2 separate regions of the Homo sapiens genome follow, and region 2 is linked to region 1. Evidence: fine-mapped expression QTL. Tissue or cell type: whole blood. Region 1 holds a variant in brackets; the other region holds the start of a gene. All regions are shown on one strand. Distances are from middle to middle.

Region 1 (2,755 bases):
CTTTCTCTCTCAGGGGGTCAAACCAACCTTCGCATACCTCAAGGCACTGTGGGCCAAGTAATGTTGGATGATAGGGCATACCTGGTACGCTGGGAATACTCCTATAGCAGCTGGACCCTCTTTACCTGCGAGATTGAAATGTTGCTTCATGTTGTTTCAACTGCAGGTAAGGTCAGCTTTCGGAAACATCACCTACGAGGAGGAAAAGTGGATATGCTTGGAGGATTTAGAAAATAGAATATCTACATAAAATTTAGAACCATCAAGATTGTGATTTGTCTGATTTGTGTATCTGGGTCTCAGAGACTGTTCAGTGATCTTAAAGGGGTTGTTTGCCGTGAGGTCACAGGCTGTCTTTCTTCTCAGATGTGATTCAGCACTGCCAGCGAGTCAAACCCATCATTGATCTCGTCCATAAGGTCATCAGTACAGACCTGTCGATAGCAGACTGTCTCCTGCCCATCACATCTCGCATCTACATGCTGCTGCAGCGGTGAGTCTGTCTTGGCTGACCCTCAGCTGCCCAGTAGAGATCTCAGCACTTGTGCCCTCAGTTTGCAGGAACCTGGACACATACCCACTGGGTTAAAGTTCGCGCATATTCCTTGGTTTTCCTGTTTTTATATCTGTGAGGGTTTTCCTGTTTTTATATGTCTGCTGAGGGGAGAGACTGGGGAGAGAGAAGTGGAAAAATGTTTGTGAGGGAACCAGTTGTATTATTTGCTTTATTGAGTATAGTGTATTGTTCTCCAACCAGGTTAACGACAGTGATCTCCCCACCTGTGGATGTCATTGCTTCTTGTGTCAACTGCTTAACTGTTTTGGCTGCCCGCAATCCAGCAAAGGTGAGATGCCAGATCTTCCCAAGAGCCAAAAATGTAGCACTTGGCACATACCTGAAGATATGTGGGCATTTAACTCTTCCTTTTCCTTCTCAGGTCTGGACTGATCTTCGTCACACAGGTTTTTTACCATTTGTGGCCCATCCTGTCTCCAGCCTGAGTCAGATGATTAGGTGAGCCAAGTCCTAGGGTGGTGGGCCATATTCCCTAGTGAGAACCACATATGTCTCAGATCTAGCCTAGGTTTATTAATTTTATTTTTATGTATTTGTTTGTTTATTTTTTTGAGATGGAGTCTCACTCTGTTGCCCAGGCTGGAGTGCAGTGGTGCAGCCTCCGCCTCCCATGTTCAAGCAGTTGTTGTGTTTCAGCCTCCCGAGTAGCTGGGATTATAGGCTC[G/A]AGCCACCACGCCCAGCTAATTTTTGTATTATTTATGTATTTATTTACTTTTTTTATTTTTTGAGATGGAGTTTCGCTCTGTTACCGAGGCCAGAGTGCAGTGGCACGATCTAAGCTCACTGCAGCCTCTGCCTCCCGGGTTCAAGCAATTCTCCCACCTCAGCCTCCCCGGTAGCCAGGATTACAGATGTGCGGCACCACGCCCGGCTAATTTTTTGTATTTTTAATAGAGACGAGGTCTTACCATGTTGGTCTGACTCGTCTGGAACTCCTGGTCTCAAGTGATCTGCCCGCCTTAGCCTCTCAAAGTGCTGGGATTATAGGCGTGAGCCACCGCGCCTGGCCTGATTTTTTTTTTTTTTTTTTTGAGATGGAGTTGCGCTCTTGTTGCCCCGGCTGGAGTGCAATGGCGTGATCTTGGCTCACCACAACCTCCGCCTCCCAGGTTCAAGTGATTCTCCTGCCTCAGCCTCCCAAGTAGCTGGGATTACAGGCATTCACCACCACGCCCCGGTAATTTTGCATTTTTGGTAGAGATAGTGTTTCACCGTGTTGGCCAGGCTGGTCTCGAACTCCTGACCTCAACTGATCCGCCTGCCTTGGCCTCCCAAAGTGCTGGGATTACAGGCATGAGCCATGGTGCCCGGCCGAGAGCAAGAGAGATTTCTTATCCAACATCAATCACGTTAGTATGTGAGCATTTACTTTCCAGCCCAGAAAATCCAGAGGTTTCTAGATTCAGGGACTTGGTGTCCCGTTATTAAGCCACAATCACTCTGTACTTTTTCTCATTTCATGGGTTCTCGAGCTCAGCCAGTAGACCACTTACCAGTACACAGGCTCCATCTTACTACCTGAGCATTCTCGCCTTGCTGTCTCTTGACAAAAATGTTTCCCTGATGTTCCTTTGATTTTTTTACTTTCAATCTAGGTTTTACATCAATAAAACATGTTCTTAATGTTTACCCTGGGTACAGAACTGTCTTGATTGGATTATTTCCACTGGAGAGCTTTTCTATTTTATATTCAAGTCATCTAGACTATAACAAGAATGCTCTATGATTAGTTTCTTGAAACCTTGAAATTTCCCTATCATTTTTTTTCCCTCTACTTCTTTTTCCAGTGCGGAAGGGATGAATGCTGGAGGGTACGGAAACCTCTTGATGAACAGTGAACAGCCTCAGGGCGAGTATGGGGTTACTATTGCCTTTCTGCGCTTGATCACCACCCTTGTCAAGGTACAGTCTGATTTTGTTCACAAAGGGCAGAAAAAGAAAAGGTCCAGTCTTGTCAGATGACTCTGAAATAGTTTCCCTGGCCCCTGGTGCTGTAATCTTCTTGTCTGTAGGCAGAATAGTCATCTTGAAGTTACAGTGACAACAGTTTCTATGTATTGAGTACCTAGTATGTGCCAGTTATGTACTCTATTAGGTGCTTAATTATGTGAATTTATTTAATGATTGGAAGGTTTATGAAGTAGAATGGAAGAGGCCAAAAGGGTATTGCAGTTACTA
Region 2 (2,500 bases), 150 kb before region 1:
AGGCTTGAAATTTACCTAAGCAGGAGGTCAGAACTCAGTTTGCTGGCTCCCTCCCTTCTCTGGGCCTCAGTTTCTCCATCAGGACAAGATGTTTGGACCTACTGGTCTGTAAAGGCCCTTTCAGATAAGACATCTCTGCTCTGCCTGCAGGACAACTACCGTGGGCCACAACCTGTGGCCCTCCCCAAGACCCCAGCTCACCGCGGTCCTCCTTCTCTGCCGCTGCCTCCTCCTCTTCCAGGCGCTTTGCCTGTTCCTCCTGTGCCCGCTGCCGCTCCAGTTTTTTCATCAGCTTGAGATCCTTCCATTTTTTTTTCTCCTCTTTCTCTGGATAAAAGAACATCCTAATTGGCCAAGGAGACAGTTCCCACTCATTGGGTCAGCCTGGACTCTGGAGAGCTGCTGGGTGAGCAGCCAGAGGGCAGCAAGGGAGCCTCCCCAGGGCTCCCGGCCCCTGCCTCCCCACTTTGTGTGCTGCAGGACCCAGAGGGAACAAAGTTGGTGTCTTTCTCCAGGGTTTGACTGAGCACTGGTGGAGTGGCCTATGGGAAGATACTCTTACCCACCCTTACTTACTCTGTTGCTTCCATTTTCGCCACTCAATCCTTTGGCCGTGTTCACCCTGGAGAAGGAGTGGTAGGAGGATTATGAGTGTGAGGCTGATGGTCACACCTGGAGGGGGTCCGTTTGCTGCACCATAGCCAGCCCCTCCACACGGGGCGGCAAGGAAGCCAAGGAACCTCTGCGAACTGCTGCCCCAGAAAGCGGCAGGAGGGCAGGGACCCGCTGTATCCCCAGCGCCTGGGACCCAGCCTGGCACACAGAAAGCACTCAAGAAACTGTCGAATGAGTTCCCACAAAACAGAAGAGAAAACTGAGGCTCAGGGTACAGCACTGCCCACAGTCGCCCTGGAAGTCAGAAAAGGGCTCCAGAAGCCACGAAAGGGCTCCGGATTCAGCATCCGGAGGCGAGCAGGGTCCCGCCTCCGTAATCCAGCGGGGGCCAGGGAGCCGCAGGGGGTTCCGGAGAGGACACGGGCGCTGTTCCCATCCTGCTGAGGCTCACGCGGCACCTTCGGGGGCTTCCGGCCTGGGATCAGCGGGAAGCAGGCAGCAGGAGGCGCGGCCCGGCCCCGGCGAAGGCCCCCACGCCACTGGTTCTCACGCCTCCACCATGCTGCCCTGCACGGGGTCCCGCCGCCCGCACTTACCGGGCCGCACGGCCGCTTCCTGCCGCGCTCCGCCATGTTCCGCACACACCGTCGGTCCCGCCTCTGCCAATGAGACTCGCCTCTTCCGGCCACACCTCCATTAAGCTGTCCAATCGGAGAGCCAATATCGCCCAGGGGCGTGGCCTGGGCGCCCGACGGGCTGCAGGGGTACGCGGGCTGGAGTAGGTTGGGCAGAGTAGGTGTCCAAATAGGCGGCATCGCGGGTACTGTGCTGAATTTTGGATGGCTCGGAGCCCCCCTCTGAGTTGGGACAAATACAACACTCAGACCTCTGAGTAGTTCACTTGTTTAAAAATAATTTTTTTTGAGACAGGGTCTCGCTATGTTGCCGAGGCTGGAGTGCAGTGGAGCAATTCTAGCTCACTGCAGGCTTGAGCTCCTGGGCTCAAGGGATCCTCCCACCTTAGCCTCCCGAGTAGCTGGAACCACAGGTGCGCAGCACCACGCCTAGCTCCTGGAAGGCTTTATACATGGGGACCCTGGGGCCTTGAGCTGTAGTGTGATTCAGAGCTGAAAATGAGATAATTTACTCCAGGTTTCTTATAGATTCGTTCACGTACTCTTTCTTTTTTTTGAGACAGAGTCTCGATTCATTGCCCAGGCTGGAGTGCAATGGCGCGATCTCGGCTCACTGCAACCTCCACCTCCTGGGTTCAAGCAATTCTCCTGCCTCAGCCTTTCAAGAAGCTGGGATTACAGGAGCGTGCCACCATGCCCAGCAAATTTTTTTGTGTGTGTTTTTAGTAGAGATGGTGTTGATGTTGGCCCCGTGTTGGCCAGCCTGGTTGAACTCCTGACCATAAGTGATCCTCCAGCCTCGGCCTCCCAAAGGGCTGGGATTACAGGCGTGACCCACTGCACCCGGCCTTTTTTTTTTTTTTTTTTTTTTTTTTTTTTTTTTTTTGAGACAGAGTTTCGCTTTTCTTGCCCAGGCTGGAGTGCAATGGCTCGATCTCAGCTCACAGGAACCTCCAACTCCTGGGTTCAAGCGATTCTCCTGCCTTAGCCTCCCGAGTAGCTGGGATTACAGGCATGCACCACCACGCCTGGCTGATTTTGTATTTTTAGTAGAGATGGAGTTTCTCTATGTTGGTCAGGCTGGTCTCGAACTCTTGACCTCAGGTGATCCGCCCACCTCGGCTTCCCAAAATGCTGGGATTACAGGCATGAGCCACCACGCCCGGCCTCGTTCTCTTTTAATTAACAGACTATATTAGTTGGGACTACAAGTGTGAGCCACCATGCCCGACTAATTTTTTTTTTTCTTT

What was found. PIP is the estimated chance that this variant, and not a neighbour inherited with it, causes the effect.
Region 2: SPOUT1 starts here. The variant in region 1 is fine-mapped to the expression of SPOUT1 in whole blood (TOPMed, PIP 0.98).

Annotation. Positions count from the first base shown.
Region 1 is chr9:128,982,536-128,985,290 of GRCh38, forward strand. NUP188 (nucleoporin 188) reads left to right here. Exons shown (of 44, transcript NM_015354.3): 16 at 14-166; 17 at 367-493; 18 at 758-845; 19 at 939-1,015; 20 at 2,365-2,479. Among named protein-coding and RNA genes, the nearest start is that of NUP188, 36 kb to the left of the region's middle. The variant G/A (reference allele first, on the strand shown) is at 1,242.
Region 2 is chr9:128,828,534-128,831,033 of GRCh38, forward strand. It overlaps SPOUT1 (SPOUT domain containing methyltransferase 1), which reads right to left and starts at 1,261. Exons shown (of 12, transcript NM_016390.4): 1 at 1,212-1,261; 2 at 577-622; 3 at 202-327. The coding sequence starts at 1,247. KYAT1-SPOUT1 (KYAT1-SPOUT1 readthrough) reads right to left here. Exons shown (of 25, transcript NR_182311.1): 14 at 1,212-1,472; 15 at 577-622; 16 at 202-327. RefSeq lists enhancers at 1-655, 1,453-1,512 and silencers at 993-1,172, 1,989-2,212.